4 separate regions of the Homo sapiens genome follow, and all the other regions are reported to be linked to region 4. Evidence: microRNA targets listed by miRTarBase, many of them from high-throughput screens and not tested one by one. Region 4 holds a microRNA gene; each other region holds the end of a gene's coding sequence. Distances are between the middles of the regions.

Evidence for each region. The annotated mature microRNA hsa-miR-548c-3p reads CAAAAAUCUCAAUUACUUUUGC and lies in region 4 at 1,873-1,894, opposite strand. An mRNA with a match to its seed (bases 2 to 7 or 8) in the 3' UTR can be bound and repressed. Matches are read on the target gene's strand: a 7mer-m8 pairs with bases 2 to 8, a 7mer-A1 pairs with bases 2 to 7 and ends in A, and an 8mer does both.
Region 1: the mRNA of NANOGNB is a reported target of hsa-miR-548c-3p. Seed matches in the 3' UTR shown: 7mer-A1 at 4,578-4,584.
Region 2: miRTarBase lists GALNT5 as a target of hsa-miR-548c-3p. Seed matches in the 3' UTR shown: 7mer-m8 at 4,576-4,582, 7mer-m8 at 4,280-4,286, 7mer-m8 at 3,935-3,941, 7mer-m8 at 2,315-2,321, 7mer-m8 at 1,873-1,879 and 7mer-A1 at 950-956.
Region 3: miRTarBase lists DHX36 as a target of hsa-miR-548c-3p. Seed matches in the 3' UTR shown: 7mer-A1 at 1,147-1,153, 7mer-A1 at 1,156-1,162, 7mer-A1 at 2,747-2,753, 7mer-A1 at 3,854-3,860, 7mer-A1 at 4,017-4,023 and 7mer-m8 at 4,047-4,053.

Annotation. Positions count from the first base shown.
Region 1 is chr12:7,773,473-7,778,626 of GRCh38, reverse strand. NANOGNB (NANOG neighbor homeobox) reads right to left here. Exons shown (of 4, transcript NM_001145465.1): 4 at 4,506-4,827. The coding sequence ends at 4,776. Among named protein-coding and RNA genes, the nearest start is that of NANOGNB, 11 kb to the right of the region's middle.
Region 2 is chr2:157,310,897-157,316,050 of GRCh38, reverse strand. GALNT5 (polypeptide N-acetylgalactosaminyltransferase 5) reads right to left here. Exons shown (of 10, transcript NM_014568.3): 10 at 1-4,843. The coding sequence ends at 4,703. Among named protein-coding and RNA genes, the nearest start is that of ERMN, 12 kb to the left of the region's middle.
Region 3 is chr3:154,271,614-154,276,759 of GRCh38, reverse strand. It overlaps DHX36 (DEAH-box helicase 36), which reads left to right. Exons shown (of 25, transcript NM_020865.3): 24 at 1-13; 25 at 404-4,214. The coding sequence ends at 589. Among named protein-coding and RNA genes, the nearest start is that of DHX36, 50 kb to the left of the region's middle.
Region 4 is chr12:64,619,309-64,624,462 of GRCh38, reverse strand. It overlaps MIR548C (microRNA 548c), which reads right to left and starts at 1,954; the gene lies at 1,858-1,954. All of the region lies in intron 1 of RASSF3 (Ras association domain family member 3), which reads right to left. It overlaps MIR548Z (microRNA 548z), which reads left to right and starts at 1,858; the gene lies at 1,858-1,954. RefSeq lists an enhancer at 2,873-3,032.

The DNA of each region.
Region 1 (5,154 bases), 57 Mb from region 4:
TACAGATGTGCACCACCACGCCCGGCTTATTTTTGTATTATTAGTAGAGATGGAGTTTTCACCATGTTGGCCAGGCTAGTCTCGAACTCCTGACCTCAGCTGATCCTCTCACCTCAGCCTCCCAAATTGTTGAGATTATAGGCATAAGCCACCGCACCCAGCCAATTTTTTTGTATTTTTAGTAGAGACAGGGTTTTACCATGATGTCCAGGCTGGTCTCCAACTCCTGACCTCAGATGATCCACCCACCTTGGACTCCCAACACACCCAGCCAGGATGCAGTTATTTTTACAAGGGGCTGGCTTCATTTCCTTTGGGTATATACCCAGAATTGGAATTGCTGGATTATACAGTAGTTCTGTTTTTAATTTTTTGAGGAATCTCCATACTGCTTTCCATAATGACTGCACCAACTTAGCTTCCCATCAATGTAAAAACTTTCTCTTTTCTCCACATCCTCACCAACACGTGTTCTGGGTGACTGGGAAGTCCAAGATCAAGGCTCCAGCAAATTCACTGTCTGGGGAGGGCATGCTTCCTGGTTCACAGGTGACTAAAATCGGGGAGAGAGCTCTACACTGTCTCTTTTATAAGTACACTAATCTCATTTATAAGATGCCACTCTTACTGCCTAATCACCTCCCAAAGGCCCTATCTCCTATTATCATCACAATGGGGGTTAGGAAATTTTTTTTTAGATGGAGTCTAGCTCTGTCGTCCAAACTGGAGTGCAGTGGCTCGATCTTGGCTCACTGCAACCTCCGCTTCCTGGGTTCAAGCCATTCTCCTCCTCAGCCTCTGGAGTAGCTGGCATTACAGGCTCCCGCCACCACACCCGGCTAATTTTTGTATGTTTATTAGAGACAGGGTTTCACCATATTGGCCAGGCTGGTCTCTTACTCCTGACCTCGGGGATCCATCTACCTCGGCCTCCCTAAGTGGTGGGATTACAGCCGTGAGCCATCGTGCCCGGCTGGAGCGGTTTTATTCACAGTTGCTAAAATTTACCAAGATGTCCTTCAGTAGGGTGAATGGATAAACTGTGGTCCATCTACACAATGAAATATTAGTAAGTGATCAAAAGAAATGAGCCGGCCAGGCGCAGTGGCTCACGCCTGTTATCCCAACACTTTGGGAGGCCGAGGGGGGTGGATCACCTGAGGTCAGGAGTTGGAGACCAGCCTGACCAACATGGAGAAAACCCATCTCTACTAAAAATAACTAAATTACCCAGGTGTGGTGGCTCATGCCTATAATCCCAGCTACTCGGGAGGCTGAGGTATGAGAATCGCTTGAACCTGGGAGGCAGAGGTTGCAGCGAGCCGAGATTGCGCCATTGCACTCCAGCCTGGTCAACAAGAGCAAAACTCCATCTAAAAAAAAAAAAAAAACTGAGATTAGGAAATAGAAATTCTTTTCTCCAAATTTCTCTCACTCCGTGATATAGGGAATGGGAGATAAACTTACCAAAGTTGGAAATGTCCTCTACTTAAGAGCACTAGTTCAATAAACTGGCTCCCCCAGGTTTACTGAGGGCTGATAAATTCACCTGGTTCTTTTACTTATCTAGAAACACAGTACAGATATTAAAATACCTAAATCCCAGTGGCCGCTTTGAACATAGTGCTACCCTACATATTACTGGAAAGAGGAAAATTCAGGACTGGATTAGAGAAATGGCTAATGAAAGATGGGCTGATGGCTAATCTTAAATTCCACTCTCCCTGTCTTCCTTAGCTTCACGGTCATTTTCTGTGATCCAAAAATGTGGTAAAAAGACTGCATTTTATCTAACTACCAAAGATGTATAGGCAGGAAGCCTGTAAGAATGGCTGATGTGTACAGTAACACACTTATAGACTAGCGCCTGGGCTTTCTCATCTTCTAACTAGTGTTCTTTTTTTGAGTTGGAGAGTGAAAGTCTCAAAAGTTGGGGATAGAAACTGGAGCTCAAAAATTACCACCACAGGCTGGGTGTGGTGGCTCATGCCTGTAATCTCAGCACTTTGGGAGGCTGAGGTGGGCGGATCACCTGAGGTCAGGAGTTGGAGACCAGCTTGGCCAACATGGTAAAACACCATCTCTACTAAAAATACAATATTGGTGAGGCGTGGTGGCTCACCTGAGGTTGGGAGTTCGAGACCAGCCTGACCAACACAGAGAAACTTCATCTCTACTAAAAATATAGAATTAGCCAGGCATGGTGGCATATGCCTGTAATCCCAGCTACTGGGGAGGTTGAGGCAGGAGAATTGCATGAACCTGGGAGGCGGAGGGTGCAGAGAGCTGAGATCACACCATTGCACTCCAGCCTGAGCAACAAGAGGGAAACTCCATCTCAAAAAAAAAGAAAAATATTAAATTCCCCATGAAATAATGTATCAAACCCTACTAACTTATACACTTTATTTTAATTTAATTAATTCATTTGTTTATTTATTTATTTTGAGATGGAGTTTTGCTGTGTCACCCAGGCTGGATTGCAGTGGTGCCATCTCAGCTTACTGCAACCTCTGCCTCCTGGGTTCAAGCGATTCTCCTGCCTCAGCCTCCCAAGTAGCTGGGACTATAGGCGCCTGCCACCATGCTTGGCTAATTTTTTTGAATTTTTAGTAGAGATTGGGTTTCACCATGTTGGCCAGGCTGGTTTTGAACTCCTGACTTCAAGTGATCCACCGGCCTCAGCCTCCCAAAGTGCTAGGATTACAGGCATGAGCCACAGCGCCAGGCCAATAAATTTTTATTCCATATTTATTCAATAATATTTATTGAGTACCTACTGTATATCAGAAACTAGTTGAAATACATGTGATTATGACAATGAATGAGATCAACAAGTTTCCAACACTAAGAGAGCTCTCATTATGGTGGGGGTAGAGAGATGAAGCAATATATAAATATAGTAATTTTAGATGATGCTGAGTGCTATAAAGTAAATAAAAATAAATAATATGACCAGATGACTGAGTATGTGTAGGGCTACTTCAGATAGGTAGTCACAGAAAACATTTTTGAATAGGTGACATTAGAAGTGAGATCTGAATGTTGCAAAGGAGGCAGCCACTCTCAAATCTGCAAGCAGACCATTGTAAGCTGTGGGAACAGCAAGAGCATAAGTCTGGAGATGGTAAGAAACTTACTGTCTCTGAGAAACAAAAGAAGGTGTGTTTGGCGTGTAACGAGCAAGTCAGGGAATGTGGTCAGATGAGATTGGAGACTTTAGCAGGGACCAGATCTTTTAGGTTTTTACAGGCCATAGTCAGGAATCATAATTTTATCCTAAGTGTGATGGCAAGCTATGCAGAGTATATCAGTGTTCTTAATAATAAACAACAAAATTAGTTTAAGGTGAAAAGCATTTAAAGAATATTAGAAGCCGGGCACAGTGGCCCATGCCTATAATTCCAACAGTTTGTGAGGCAGAGGTGAGACAATTGGTAGAGTCCAGGTGTTCAAGATCAGCCTGGGCAACATGATGAAACCCAGTCTCTACAAAAAATACAAAGATTGGTCCAGGCGTGGTGGCTTATGCCTGTAATCCCAGCACTTTGGGAGGCCGAGGCAGGCAGATCACCTGAGGTCAGGAGTTCGAGACCAGCCTGACCAACATGGAGAAACCCTGTCTCTACTAAAAATACAAAAGTAGCCAGGCGTGGTGGCGCATGCCTGTAATCCCAGCTACTCCGGAGGCTGAGGCAGGAGAATCACTTGAACCCGGGAGGCGGAGGCTGTGGTGAGCCAAGATCGCACCATTGCACTCCAGTCTGGGCAACAAGAGGGAAACTCCATCTCAAAAAGAAAAAAAATCTAAATGACCTTAGTCCTCTGACTCAAGTCACACATCAGAAAACAGTCACCCTTGCCTGGGCACTGTAGCTCACGCCTATAATCCCAGCTACTTGGGAGGCTGAGGCAGGAGAATCACTTTAACCCAGGCAGAGGTTGCGTGAGCCGAGACTGCACCACTGCACTCCAGCCTGGGCAACAGAGCAAGATCCTATCACAAAAACAACAACAACAACAAATTGCCCTTCCAGGAGTATAATCACATTTGTAGAGAAAAGTCATGTTTGGAGGGGATGTTTAGAAATATATTGACAAATTGCAGAAGGCACTGAACCCGTTAGCTTCTATAATGGATTTCCCTTTCAGTCTCAAAACATTTCCACAGGTTGGTAATTTCTTCATTGATTTTTTTATTTTCTTTTTCTTTTTTTTTTTTTTGAGACAGAGTTTCGCTCATGTTGCCCAGACTGGAATGCAATTGTGCGACCTTGACTCACTGCAACCTCCACTTCCCAGGTACAAGCGATTCTCCTGTCTCAGCCTCCCAAGTAGCTTGGATTACAGGCATACACCACCACGCCCGGCTAATTTTTTTGTATTTAGTAGAGACAGGGTTTCATCATGTTAGTCAGGCTGGTCTCGAACTCCTGACCTCAGGTAACCCACCCGTCTTGGCTTCCCAAAGTGCTGGGATTACAGGCGTGCTCCACTGTGCCCGGCCTTGACTCGATTTTTTTTCTTAAATAAAATCAATTAACATCCATTATAAAAACTTTAAATCTACAGTAGGGTAAAAATAAAACACATAAAAACTCCTTTGCATACCCCTCATTTAGTTCTACTCCACGGAATCAACGACTGTTAATGTTTTCTTGTTTATCCTTTCAGAACTCCATTTATTGGTGAGAATGGTGTCATGTAAAATGTCTTAGCCAGTGCGATGGCTCATGCTTGTAATCACAGCATTTCTGGAGGCCAAAATAGGAAGATCACTTGAGGGCAGGAGTTCGAGACCAGCCTTGGCAACACAGAGATCTCCATCTGTTTAAAAAAAAAAAAAAAAAAAAGAGTTTCGCAACACAGTCTATATATTTATTTATTTTAAATTTTTTTTTGAGATGGAGTTTCACTCTTGTCACCCAAGCTGGAGTGCAATGGCACAATCTCGGCTGACTGCAACCTCCATCTCCCAGGTCAAGCAATTCTCCTGCCTCAGCCTCCCGAGTAGCTGGGATTACAGGCACCTGCCACCAAGCCTGGCTTTTTTTTTTTTTTTTTTTTTTTTTTTTTTTTTGTATTTTTAGTAGAGATGGAGTTTCACCATGTTAGTCAGGCTGGTCCCAAACTCCTGACCTCAGGTGATCCACC
Region 2 (5,154 bases), not on the chromosome of region 4:
CAGTCTTTTCACCGGCTATGTAAGTAGTATACCTGGTTAAACCAATCCCCGGGCCCTATGTATATCAATCACCGCCTCCTCAAGCCTCTGTATGAAATCAATCAAATCTTGCCCCAAACCCAGAAAACCCTCTCTTGAGCAACTGTCTTTCTCAACATGAGGAAGCTTTCTCACTCTCTTCTTTATCTATTAAACTTTCCACTCCTAAACCCACTCCTCATGTGTGTCTGTGTCCTGAATTCTTTCTTGGCATCAGACAATGAACCATGGGTATTTCCCCAGAAAATGGAGCTTTTTCAATATTATTCACAGAGAAAGAATCCTCCACATGTCCACTTCTTTCTTTCACATTTGGTCCAGGAGATGAAAAAGAATAGGTTCTGCATGAAGTCAAAGAGATAGATCACAGCAAAACATGTGGGGGTAGCCATGTTTATACCTACACATCAATTGGTTACCACAGAGAGAGAGAGACCATGCTTCTTTTTTCTGTTTATACAACATCCAAAAGAGGCCAAAGGGGTTTAATTCAATCTCATCTCAATACTGTGGCATCAGTAATCTGAGACCAAGAAACTTTTAAATGCACCCACCTGAGATGACAGCCCTTTGTAAAGAAGAAAATTAATTATATAGCAGCATGGTATAGTGAGAGAAATTTTTTTTGAGCCAGATAAAATGGAAACTGGGTTTTATCTCTTACTTGTGGGATGACCTTGGGCAATTTACCAAATTCCTCATCTGTATGTGGGAGTTATCCTTCTTGTTCATATAACAGGGAGAATGAGAGTCATTTGATGAGTTGTACCCATCAGTGAGATGGGACACATATAGCACCTACACAAATAGTACCTACACACACTCAATGATAATTAGTTCCTTTCTTTTTTCCCATCACCCAATGTCATTTTTTTGTTTTAATCCAAGATTTTGGGGCTTTCTTCTGAGGTAAAAATTATTATTATTATTTTTTGAGATAGAGTCTTGCTCTGTTGTCTAGGCTGGAGTGCAGTGGCGCAATTTCAGCTCACTGCAACCTCCACCTCCCGGGTACAAGCAATTCTCCTGCTTCAGCCTCCCAGGTAGCTGGGATTACAGGCGCCCACCACCATGCCCAGCTAATTTTTGTATTTTTAGTAGAGACGGGGTTTCACCATGTTGCCCAGGCTGGTCTTGAACTCCTGACCTCATGATCCACCCACCTTGGCCTCCTAAAGTGCTAGGATTACAGGTGTGAGCCACTGCGCCTGGTTGGTAAATTTTTTTTCTTGTATTCTGAATATAGGAATTCAATCAGAGATGTTAAAACAAAGAAAGATGGTACTCTCTGGCATGTTTCAATCTTATTCTATTGCATGAGTGCCTGCTAGAAATAATTACAAGCCATTCATGAAATCAAGGTTGGTTGGGAATATTGGACTCCTATATACTGTAAATGGTATCTTTGCCCCTCTGCAGTCCCAAACTAATACTAGAAGTAAGGTGTTTTAATATCTAAAAGAATGTTTCCAAATTAGTGTGGCGAAGCTAATAATACATTGTGATCATGGCACATGGTGGTTTGCTGTGAATGACAGCTGAGGGGATGTCAACAAGCAGTATTAAGCAAATTTGATGCTGGTGATAGAACAAGATTGTACCAACAACAACTGTGTCAGCTTACAAGAGAGTAGGGCAGAAGCGCTGGGTAACTGTTGAAAAGGAGAAAGAAATTGTGCAAACTGAAAAGTCTCAGAAGCACTTAGATGGCTTGGTAAGTTGGTTAGTGCTGTCAAATATTATCAAGACCACCCTTGTATTCAAGGTAACAAGATGCATAGACTTTTTTTTTTTTTTTTTAAAGTAAAGGCAATGACCTAAGCTAATCCAGGGAAAAATCTGTAGCTCCTGTAACACAGCCTCCTATTGAAGAATTCAGTGCTGATTAGGACCTGTCTCATCCAAAGGTTTATCACTAGAATTACCAGAAGACCGAGTAGCATGTATACCTTTATTCTAATCTCCTGAAAAAATTTAGAAGGCTATGCTTAAGAAAATGTTGGTAGTAGATGTAATAATAAATCAATACACTCAAGTTTAGGCCCATATAGATTCCCAACTAGTGATCAGTTCCTTGCTTCTTAGAGTAACTGAGCAAATATATGATGAAAAGCAATGTATAAAATTCTATCCAAGAACAAATTTGTGATGTTCAAAAACAATCCTTTGTTATATTGACAATATAGATTTAAATATAGCTTTATATAATAAGTTTGTCAGGGTAAAGTCAGAAAGGATGTGAACTGAGAGGACTGCAGAAGTTTCTGTTAAGGAAAAAAATCCAACTTCCTTTAGTTGATATACCCAAAGATAAGTGTATTCAAAATGCAATTCATTTTTTTTCAGAACAGAGTTGACTTCTTTGTGGAAACTATTTTCGGATAAAAAGAGAGCCTATATACCCGGGGGAAAAAAACCTCTCAACATTTTTTAGTTACATGAAGAATTACATGAGGCACCTAGCATGTTCAGTTTGTCAGTAACTCAATTAGTCTTTTGACAACTGACTTGCGTCCCCCCATCCCCCTTGCCCCATATGGCTCTGTTTTGAAAAGAATTAGAGTCATGCATCATTTAATAACACAAATACATTCTGAGAAATGTGTCATTAGGCAATTTCATCATTGTGTGAATATCAGAGTGTACTTACACAAACCTAGATGGTGTAGGTAGCCTACTACACACCTAGGCTATATGGAATCCCTGTTGCTCCTAGGTTACAAACTTGTGCATGTTACTGTATTGAACACTGTAGGCTATTGTAACATCATGGTGAGTATTTGTGTGTCTAAACATAGAAAAGCACACTAAAGATACCATATTATTAATATAATCTTTTGGGACCAATGTCAAATATGTGGTTCATTGTTGACTAAAACATCATTATGTGTCATATAACTGTATCTCATTTCCTAGTCATTCTCTTACTCATCTGCAGTTTTCAATTATATGAAGAAAACATCTTAAATATGTTACAAATGTGCAGAAATAGTTCTTTTTCCCATTCTTAGTTATAGTTTTGCTTTTACGTAACTCATTGGGAGTCAAAATTAAATGTTAAACTAGGAGTCAGAATGAAAGATACCTAGTTTCACAATCATCTCAACTGAACAAAAGTTTAAATTTAAAAAAAGAAAAAACATATTAACAAGAATATAGTATGGTTGTCCTCCAGGGACCCAATCCCAGCAAAGAATTGTGTATCTCTTTCTAAGGAATTCTGTGAAGCAGATTTGTTCGGGCCAGTGACCTGAGGCATTAGAATGAGCCCTGTCTCTGGAAACCTGAATTCTAATCTTGATTCTTTGACTAACTTGCCTGGGTTTTAAGATTTTTAGGTAATTTATCCTCTCAGCATCAGTTTTCTTACCAAAATGAATGCAAAGGCTATCCTGATTTCTAAGGTGTCTTCTGGTATGCCAAAGTATTGGTATGCTTAAGATTAGAGGCTTTATTTGGATGAAATCAGTATTTAACTTTTCCCAAATTTGTCAGTGTTCTCACTGGGTTCACACTGAGGGCTTTACTCTTTTTTCCTTCATAGAGATACTAGATCCCCTTCTTTCTTTGGCCAAGTCCAGCGGAATTTTTTCTTAACTCTCTTCCTAAGACTTGTTTACCTCATTCCTTTCCCCTTTCATGATGTTTCCTTCACTTCATTTTCCCTTTGAAATATTTTAGAACCCATTTTTCGCATATTTCATCCCTGTGAATGCTACTATATCTAAAGTAGTATTTTATTATTTTTATATAAAAGAAACTTTCAGCAGCTCTATTTCTGCTTTACTCATTTCAACTCCTCTTACTTGGCCCTGCACTAGAGTGCATTCAATGCTTAAATGCATTTTTGATTACTACAGTGTGTTATAATCCAGCCTTTTTTCATTGCCTTAAAAAAAATCCACATGAATCTAGGAAGTTATTGGTATCATAAATCTTTAAAACTGTAGTTTTAAAAGCACAAAATGAACTGAAATAGTGTTCATACCTAGAATTAAATAAGCATTTGAAGGCCTCTTCTTCCTCACTTAAATTTTTTTCCACTGATTCAGATTGGGAAAAACCATTATGTAATTTAGATCAAAATGCTGCCATCAAGCAGGGTTACCAGCAGTAGATCAATACTATTTCAAACTGTTAGGTAAGCATGCATGTAGTCTGGAGGGATTTCACAAACGTGACAGCTGTGGGCATCTGAGGTCTTCTAGCCATAAGAACTCAAGAAATTTTTGTTTGATGAAAAAATCCCCAAATAAAGGACTAAGTTAAGTTCTCATTGATCATTCCTACTTGTGGGCCAGAAGAGCTGATTATTACCAAACATAGTCATTGGGAATATCCTCATGCTTTCTCAAGTCCTTCTGTCTTCATTTCCAGTTACCTGTTAGCTTTCACAGGGAAATTTGCATGATGAGGTCTAGCATAGGGTGGAAAGCAGGCAATTCAAAGGCCACCCAGTTCCGAAGAAGGACTTCAGTCCAATGTTGGACTGTTTTCCTGAGTCATCTTTTGGTATTCCAAATATTGTGATTTATAAAAAATCTTCCATTCAAATGTTATTAAAATTGAAAATTTAAACTACCGCTGAGAAATATAGTTTCCAAGTTCAGTGTTATTTTCACAGTATTTAATGGGTTTACTATATAAAAACATCAGTTACACTTCAGGCTTCATAATATTTTTCAAATTTCCACTTTTGATATGGCTTCACTGGGTCACAGGCAGCTACTTTCAGGATCTTTTGAGAAAAATTTCCTTCCAAGCATAATAATTGCTGATTGTTTTCAAAAACAATGTGATTCACCTGGAGAGAAAGAAGAGCTGGGAATGAGCCACAGGCTGAATTTGATAACTGCAATATGAAGAAATGAAAATCAATTAAAAAAATGGACAGGCAGTTATATTTTTGATTTTTAAGAATTCTTCTGAACTAAATTATTAACATAAACACAGACTTTGAAAAGTATTAAATTTGTCTCTGTCTCAGACTAAGTAATCATCCTCCACCAAGCTATAAGACTTTTAAGTCCTCAGGAGGCAAAAGAAAAATTTCTTGATGATATGGCTGAGAACTATACTCTTTAAAGAGAAAACATTACAGATGACATTTATTGG
Region 3 (5,146 bases), not on the chromosome of region 4:
CCATCTTGTTAAGGTGACTGACTTTATGTGATTATCTTAAATCTACATGTAAGTCAGCATGTGGTCATGTGGTTTTGTTCTAACTGTTAAATAGATTAACATTTCTTGCTCTATTTCAGCAGAGCAAATAATTTTGAAAAAATGATTCCTGGTTTTTCTGAATTGTGTTTTGAGGTGGTAACAGACCAGCCATTCTAAATGGCTCAGTGTGATTGCAGTGTGAATTTTAACTGCACTTTAGTTATTCACTCATAACCACACTTTAGTTGATTGCTCACTAAATGTTTTAGCTTTTGAGCCATCGCTTGTGAAACTCCTTGTATCAGGTAAATTAGTTTCATTTATTATGTTATTTGGTAATATATCTGCCTTTGTTGAACATGTATAATTTTTCCAACCTTAGGAATTAAGAAAGGAACTAGATATTCTTCTGCAAGAGAAGATTGAAAGTCCTCATCCTGTAGACTGGAATGACACTAAATCCAGAGACTGTGCAGTACTGTCAGCTATTATAGACTTGATCAAAACACAGGAAAAGGCAACTCCCAGGAACTTTCCGCCACGATTCCAGGATGGATATTACAGCTGACAGCTTTTCAGGGGTGGTCTGAAAAGCCAGTTTGACAGCCATTCTTCATCATTGTTTAAATTTTGGCTGGATGCCAAACCCTGGGACATGAACAATTTTCATGTGTAAGGTAGAAGCCTTCAGTAGGTAGTAAAGACTTAATGTGCATGACTTGATGTTATATGTAGAGATATATATATATATATATATATACCATAAAAGCAATATGTTCTCTGATCATATACTCTGCTGTGGTCATGCCCACTCTTTGGGAGTATATTCCCTTTATATATATTGAGTATTGTACCACTTGAGAAATTCCTTTGTTCTGTTATACAAAATTAATCTTTCTGCTCATAATGATTGATGATACCACCAGTAAAAATAGGATGTTTACCCCAAAACAAGTGTCAATTAAGAATTTGAACACAACCACATTTTTTAAAATGAAACTTCTATCGGAAGTAAATTAATTTGTTGTAATAAAGTCCAGTATTTAATAAAATGTACAATGTTAAATCTCAGCCAACCTCTTGGATTGGTTTCTACATTTTCACCTATGGCTTGGTTCATTTGATATTTTTACTATTTTTAAAACACGTGCCCTTTTTATATCACCCTGTGCCTCATAATACAGCAATTGAGAGCACGGTCTGGAGCCTGATTACCTCAGTTCCAGTCTCAGCTCTGTCAGTTAGTCAGTGTCTTGGCTTCTCTCCTTTTTCCTTATCTTGTAAGATACAGTTGGCCCTTCATATCCATGCATTCCACATCTGTGGATTCAAACAACTGTGGATAGAAGATATTTGGGGAAAAAAAGGATGGTTGTGTCTATACTGAACATGTGCAGACTTTTTTCCTTGTCATTCCCTAAACAATACAGTTTAACAGCTATTTATATAGTATTTACATTGTATTAGGTATTATAAATAATCTAGAGATGACTTAAAGAATATGGGAGGTTGTGCCTAGGTAACATGCAAATACTACGCCATTTTATTATAAAAGACTTGAGCATCCATGGATTTAGGTATTTGAGGGGTTGGGGTTGGAAACCAGTCCCCCACAGATACTGAGGGACAACTGTACATGTAACAGTTGTGAGGATGAAGTACATTAATACATGTAAAGCACATAGGCTAGTGCCTGTACTCTCTGAATCTTAGTTGTTATTTGTCCCTGAAATATTTTCGTAAATGTCTAACAATCTATTATATTACACTTTTTATTTTATTGCTACTTATCTTCTTCGCCAAGGAATAGTGTAACAACACATGCTGTACATTTTCAGCCCTATCAGATTGTGATAAATACTGTTGGTTGCCGGCCAGCAACTATTTTGTCCCTCCCTTCTTGCTTGCTTATTCTGGTGTTCCCTTCTGTGCAGCTCTGTGTCCAGGTATGTTGGACCCTTTCCCTAAGGGTGAATCCTGCTGTTCTAAATGAATCACATGTGGTCTTATCCCCCTTATAAGTAATTGATAAGGCATGAGTACATAAACATGTCCTAGTGAATGGCAGCTGAGAAGTGATCTTCAAGGGGGTGTCTGAAAAATGTTTTACTCACTAATAGGCTTAGAGGAGGAAATCCTGCTCTCTCTGGACATTGTCTTTTCTGACTCTGATAGTTGGAACTGCTGCAGCCAACTAATGATCACAAGGAGACACGGACTCAGACTGAGGTTAGCTCAGTGGAAAGATAGAACTCACCAGAGCCTTTGATAATGCCGGTAAGCTTCAGAATTAACCCATTCTAGAGCTGCTTTACATGTGGACTTATGTTGATATAATAAAAACCCTTCAATTGTTTAAGCCACTTTTAATAGGATATTGTTAGTTTTTTGTTGGTTTTTTGTTTTGTTTTGTTTTGTTTTTTGTTTTTTGGAGACAGTGTCTTGCCCTGTCACCCAGGCTGGAGTGCAGTGGTGTGATCTTGGTTCACTGCAGCCTCGACTTCCTGGGTTCAAGTGATCCTTCTGCCTCAGCCTCCCAAATAGCTGGGACTATAGGCATGCATCACCACACCCAGCTAATTTCTGTATTTTTTGTAGAGACACCGTTTCACCATGTTGCCCAGGCTGGTCTCAAAACTCCTGTGCTCAAGCAGTCTGCCCGCCTTGGCTTCCCAAAGTGCTGACATTACAGGTATGAGCCACTGCACCCGGTCCCTAGTAGGGTATTTTTAACTTGGCAAAAAGGGTATTAATCAGAAACATACACTATCCATCACTGAGTATTATACTCTTGATTTTGCAATGTAAGAGTTTTAACCTATTTGTCTGACAGAAGGTGTAAAAGTGCTGGACATGCTGCAGAAAGAAACAGGAAAAGCATCTTGCTGCACTCCAAAGAATGCAAATTTTAATGTGCCTTCCAATAAATGCAAGGAAACCGAAAGAGTTAATAGTATCATACAATGACTGGGATGTATTGATAATGCTACAGTGATCCATTAACAGCACTTGTTCAGGTACTGCTCCCAATCCTGGGAATGTGTGTTACCTGTTATGTCTCAAATCCTTTATCTTGGCTGTTCTTCTAAAAGTGATCTGTCTGTCATTGAATGCTGGCATTAGAGTCATGTCACAATATTAGAGCATACTGGTTTTGCCTCTAACGTCGAGGTGACCATCTGGTCTTTCTTGCTCTGTAAGAGTTTCTGTTTGTGCTTTTTTTTCCCTTACTTTTATTATCCAGTTTAAATCCAGTCAGTTGGCCAAAATGGTCTTGGAAGAAAGGATTTAGAGATTCTGTAAAAAAGATTATTAGTTGGTTCTGTGTTTGCAAACCAGTATGTAATTCCCATATGAATGGGGAAAATGTTCCTGAGGAATTATTTAATTGATGAGGCATTCACAGAGATTAAAGCAGTTATTGTTACCTCCAATTTATGTCTTCTGCACAGCTGATTAGGTTGGACATTTTAATCCAAGGTGCTACTTACATTCTGTTTCTTTTGTTTACAAAATAGGGCATTACTGAGTAGAAAATACATTCCAGGTCTAAGAACTGTTTGTTCTTTAGTGGATTTTAAAGAATAAGACATTAAATTAAGAAGGAAAATCTGTTTGATTCATCATTTTGAGTAATGCAGAGAATAACTCTTAAAAAAAAAACCTGAAACAGAAACTTTCAGGAAAAAAACAAAAGAAATTAAACTACTGAATAATCTTTCAAAAGCATCGTTGAACAGTGAGCACATGTGATGCCTTCCCAATTAATTAATTTGGGCAAAAGCTCTAGATAAACTTACACCAATTGTTGCAAGGCATTCTCTATTACTGCATTTTTAAAACAAAGTCCTCCCCTAAAAGTTATGAATTATACAAAAGCTTTAGGAGGAATTTTAGTACTCCTTTACCCAAAATAAATAGTGGTAAATTTCCTTCTGTTCTTAGCTCTGAGTTTGTATTTATTTATAAGTCATTGTGATCATGTATACTTATATATTTTTAATATGCTAATTGCTTTTAAATGGGATTTTTGTTCTGATTTTAAAATAATACATCCTCCCTGGACAATATTTGGAAATGTAGCAAAGTAAATCATGTTACCATTGTTCCATTTTGATATATATAAACTTTAGGTATTATTTTATATATAATAAATTTTAAGATATTATATACAATAAAATTAACCAATTTAAGTATATGATTCAGTGAATTTTGTCAAACATATAGTAGTGTAATTACCACCACCACAATCTTGATACAGAACTTTTTTTTCCCCAGAGATGGAGTTTCGCACTGTCACCCAGGCTGGAATGCAATGGCGCAATCTCGGCTCACTGCAACCTTCGTCTGCCCGGGTTCAAGCAATTCTCTGGCCTCAGCCTCCTGAGTAGCTGGGATTACAGGCACGCGCCGCCATGCCCGGCTAACTTTTGTATTTTTAGTAGAGATGGGGTTTCACCATGTTGGCCAGGCTGGTCTCGAACTCCTGACCTCATGATCCACCTGCCTCGGCCTCCCAAAGTGCTGGGATTACAGGCGTGAACCACCACACCCAGCTGATATAGAACATTTGTATCACCTAAAAATTTCCCTTTTACCCCTTTGTAGTCAATCCCTCACCCCCACTTCTATCCCCTCGAAACCCATTGATCTGCGTTTTGTCACTTTTCGTTTTGCCTTTTCTAGAATTTCAAATAACCAGTCTTTTGTGTCCAGCTTCTTTCACTTAATGTAATACTTTTGAGATACTGATATTGTTACATGTATTAGTAGGTAGTTCCTGTTTTATCTTCTATTCAGTAGTATTTGCATTGTATAGTTATACCACAGTTTGTTAATTCATTTACCAGTTGATGGACATTTGAGTTGTTTTCAGTTTTTTTGCTGTTATGAATAAAGCTGCTATGAACATATGTATATAAGTCTTTGTGTGGTTATATGTTTTCATTTGTCTTGGGTAAATACCTAAGATTAAGGTTGTTGTATTATAGTAAGTGTGTTTGTATAAGAAACTGCTAAACTGTTTTCAGAATTTGCTGAAATTTTACATTCCCAACAGCAATGTGTGTTGGGGGGGTCAGAGTATTCCACATCCTTGCCAGTACTTGGTATTTTTAGCTGTCGT
Region 4 (5,154 bases):
TCTCTTAAAAATGTAAAAAATAAAAATAAATTAAAAAAACAAAGAGGTACAATGACTTGCTCAAGATAATACAGCTAGCACTGATTTAAACACAGGGTGCCCTACATAGCTGCTTGCAATTAATCAATTAAGAACACACACCCTTTTAGCCTATAGTTCTCCCTCTTTTTCATTACTGAGTTTTAAGCCCTCACCTCAAACAAGCAAGATGCATTGTAATGTTAATTTTAAAACTGTAACAGAGCTTCCTCCTTTAGGAATGGATTGTAAGTGGATTTGTTGATATCGGTGCTAGGTTTGCCTTTATGAAACGTACTCGTTCCGCTACACAATAAGCCCAAATTCTCTTCCCCCAAATTTCACAAATACTAATTTGGATACAGAGACCATCAACATGACAGCCAAGGATCAAACCCCTGCATGGCAGCAGCACCTCATTCATGCTAATTGACAGTTTCACGTGACCAAATCTGGTCAGAGGAAAAGCAAGAAAGCAATTCTAAAACAGAAATATGGCCGGACATGGTGGCTCACCCCTGTAATCCCAACACTTTGGGAGGCAGAGGCGGGCAGATCGGTTGAGGCCAGAAGTTTGAGGCCAGTCTGGCCAACACGGTGAAACTCTCTCTCTACTAAAAAAATAAAAATAAAAATTAGCCAGGCATGGTGGCGGGTGCTGGCAATCCCAGCTACTCGGGAAGCTGAGGCATGAGAATTTCTTGAACCTGGGAAGCAGAAGCTGCAGTGAGCCGAGATCGTGCCACTGCACTCCAGCCTGGGTGACAGAGTGAGACTCCATCTCAAAAAAATAAAAGAAAATAAAATTCTGAAATATCTGAAAGGGCTGTACCTTCCACCTAAAGGAACACTGGCAAGAAAAGCAATCCACAAGCCTGTCTGAACAAACAGAAACAGACCTTAAATGGACAAACGTAATATTGTTTCTTTATACCATCTACATAATATTTACATTTTCCCATAGCTGGGAAATTACTCACTACAGTCAAGTACCCCTAAATTTACCTCTGGCATGTCATGAAACCTGCATCTGCTTAAGGCCTAAACGGATAAACGTGCTAGTTAAATTTCTCATCTCAGAGTTCCTCTGAAATTAAAGTCCAATAAAATCAACTGAATTTTAATTCCCTTGGAATGCCCTGTTAACTGTAAAACACTAAGAAATGCTAAAGTTAATTTTGGTACTGGTACTTTTCCTCCTACGTGATATATTTAACTATGTTGTTTTCTATTTTCATTTAAAAAAATTTTGCTCCTATGACTTTGCTGGCAAAATATCAAAAAAGATTCCTCGAAACAAGCATTTGTAGAAAATTTTCACGGTGGCCGGGCGCGGTGGCTCATGCTTATAATCTCAGCACTCAGGGAGGCCGAGGCAGGCGGATCACCTGAGGTCAGGGGTTCGAGACCAGCCTGACCAACATGGTGAAACCCCGTCTCTACTAAAAATACAAAAATTAGCTGGGCATGGTGGTATGCGCCTGTATTCCCAGCTACTGGGGAGGCTGAGACTGAAGAATCACTTGAACTCAGGAGATGGAGGTTGCAGTGAGCCAAGATCGTGCCACTGTACTACAGCCTGGGCAACAGAGCAAGACTCCATCTCAAAAAAAAAAAGAAAGAAAAAAGAAAATTTTCACAGTAAGCTTGTTTGAATTAAGAAATTGGGGATTAAGGAGGGCTCATAATCTATCAATCATAAAGTCAGAAGTAACTCTTCACATCTTTTTAAAAGATTCACTTGATAAAAAGATTCTGAAAGAAAAAATTTAAAGTAGGAGTTAATCAGAATAAAAGAGATTAAGCAACAATTTTCTACTTAGGCTTCAACAAGCCTGAAAGTATTAAGTTGGTGCAAAAGTAATTGAGATTTTTGCTACTGAAAGTAATGGCAAAAACCGCAATTACTTTTGCACCAACCTAATAGATGCCAATGCCGATTCCTTTCTCATCGCAATTTTTCAACAAAAGACAGTAAGCCTATAAGTAAACAGTATAAATTATCTTTGGTGGGTAAGGTTTCCAGCAGTTTGTCCTACCATCCTTTTTTCAATACCTAGTATACTTACAAAATAAGTTAGGACTGGCCAGGCACGGTGGCTCACACCTGTAATCCCAACACTTTGGGAGGCCAAGGCAGGCGGATAACGAGCTCAGGAGTTTGACACCAGCCTGACCAACATGGTGAAACCCTGACTCTACTAAAAATACAAAAAAAAAAAAAAAAATAGCTGGACATGGTGGTGCATGCCTGTAATCCCAACTACTCAGGAGGCTGAGGCAGGAAAATAGCTTGAATCTGGGAGGCAGAGATTGCAGTGAGCCAAGATCGCGCCACTGCACTCCAGCCTGGTGACAGAGCAAGACTGTCAAAAAGATAAAAATAAATAAGTTAGGTTCTTCTAAATTCTACCAGAGTGGTTGGAAAACAAGCCCTAAATTTATTGAAATTCAAAGATAAACAGGAACTTCTAGTCACCCTTTTTTTTAAAACACATGGTTAGTAGAAAACACATCACCCAACTCCCCACCTTCTGAATCCCACGGGTTTATTTATGGTGATGCTTTCTTAGCAATGCCTTTCCCATGTTGTAACTACAGGAGTAATAAGTATTTTTCTGAGTTTCAGTGATGTCAGCCTGAAACACATTCTGAAGTATTTCAAAATGCCTGGGCCGGGCACGGTGGCTCACGCCTATAATCCCAGCACTTTGGGAGGCCCAGGCGGGTAGATTACCGGAGATCAGGAGTTCGAGACCATCCAGCCTGATCAATCCTGTCTCTACTAAAAATACAAAAATTAGCCGCGCATAGTGGCGCATGCCCATAATCCCAGCTACTTGGGAGGATGAAGCAGGAGAATCACTTGAACCTGGGAGGCGGAGGTTGCAGTGAGCCAAGTTCGCACCATTGCTCTCCAGCCTGGGCAACATGACCGAAACTCCATCTTAAAAAAATGAAAGCCTGAATATGTAATATCCTTTTGGTACAAACAGTGTAAGTCAAAAAAAACCCTGAAGTTCAGCTGACCTCAAAAAAGCAGAACCATCTACCAAGCTAAAAATGCACAGACTCAAGCAGTGCTCTCTCAAGATTTTGCCTACCTAATAGACAAATGGGCAAAGGTCATGCATGGACAATTCTCACACAAGGGAGATTTACTCAGAAGTATTTAAAAAGTATTAAATTCACAGTTAATTAAAGGAATGTGCCAGGCGCAGTGCCTCACGTCTGTAATCTCAGCACTTTGGGAGGCCGAGGTGGGTGGACCACCTGAGGTCAGGAGTTTGAGACCAGCCTGGCCAACATGGTGAAACCCCATCTCTACTAAAAATACAAAAATTAGCAGGGCGTAGTGGCAGGCGCCTGTAATCCCAGCTACTTGGGAGGCTGAGGCAGGAGAATCTCTTGAACCTGGGAGGCGGAGGTTGCAGTAAGCCAAGATCGCGCCATTACACTCCAGCCTGGGTGACGAGTAAAACTCCACCTCAAAAAATAATAATTTAAAAAATAATAATAAAGGAATGTAAATTAAATAGCAATAAGGTGCCTTTAGTTATTGAAGTTTTTTTTCTCTATTTTAATGACTATATCCAATGGAAGTAAGGGTGTAATGAAACTTAAAAATAGACATAAATTGGCAATATATAACTAGAATCATAAAAAGTCACACCCTCATAATTAGTAAAATTCCATTTTTGTACAACTATCCTATAAAATTAATCCATAATGGAAAAGGTTTCATGCTCAAGGTATTTATTAGTGCTATTTACAGTAGCAAAAATTAGAAACCTCCACATTTTCCAATATTTGGGAATAACGCCAATTCAATAAAATACAATGTAGACAACAAAATGACAGCTGAAATCAAGCAGCAGTATTCCATAATCCTGGGTTTAAATAAGGATTCAAATTTGTCAGTATAGTATTCCTCAAAAAATTAAAAACAGAATTACCATATGATTCTATAGCAACTGTTACTTATGGGTATATATCGCAAAAAGTTTTAAGAGGGGTCTTTAAGAGATATTTGTACACCCCTGTTCACAGCATCATTATTCACATGAGCCAAAAGGTGGAAGCAATCCTAATGTCTATGGAAGAATCAATGGATAAACAAAAAGTGATATATACATACAATGGATATATTATTCAGCCTTTAAAAGGAAGGAAATTCTGACACATACTCCAACATGAATAAATCTTGATGACATCAAGCTAAGTAAACTAAGCCAGTTACAAAAAAACAATTACTACACAAATTCACTTATCTAGACTAGTCAGACGAACCTATATACGCCCCCCATGAAGGCAGGTTTCAATCTGTTTCGTTCACCACCAAATCTCTAGCACTTAGTCTAGCATCATTGTGAATATTCAATACTTGAAAAATGAATTCAGAAAACTACACACACACACACACACACACAGTCAACCTGCACTAATTTCTTTTTTTTTTTTTTTTGATATAAAGTCTCACTCTGTTGCCCAAGCTGGAGTGCAGTGGCGCAATCTCGGCTCACCACAACCTCCACCTCCCAGGTTCAAGCGATTCTCCTGTCTCAGCCTACCGAGTAGCTGGGAGTACAGGCATGCACCACCATGCCTGCCTAATTTTTGTATTTTTAGTAGAGACGGGGTTTCACTATATTGGCCAGGTTAGTCTTGAACTCCCGACCTCGTGATCCGCCCGCCTTGGCCTCCCAATGTGCTGGGATTACAGGCGTGAGCCACCACGCCTGGCAACCTGCACTAATTTTAAGTGAACTCTTTGCTGACTATATTCTAAGTCCGTTAACTCCAAGATCTTCTAAATCCATCCTTCTGGTCTCCAATTCCCAAACTCACCCTTTTTCCTCCTCTAATTATCTCACCTTGTTTAGCATCTGGAAAAAGAACCAAGTGAGGCAATATATAATTAGTAAATTATTCTTAGCTGACTGAATCATGTAGCAGCAGTTAGCAATTACAGTCCACAAAATGCAAAATATTAAGCTTGCTCCTTTAATACTCTATGAAACATGAGCCCTCTTCTGTCCTTAAACTGAAGGCAGAGTTGCACCGAGAATGCCATTAGGTCAGTTTTATCTTATTGGCTCATGTGGAAAAAAAAAAGGGAAGTTCCCCACACAAAAG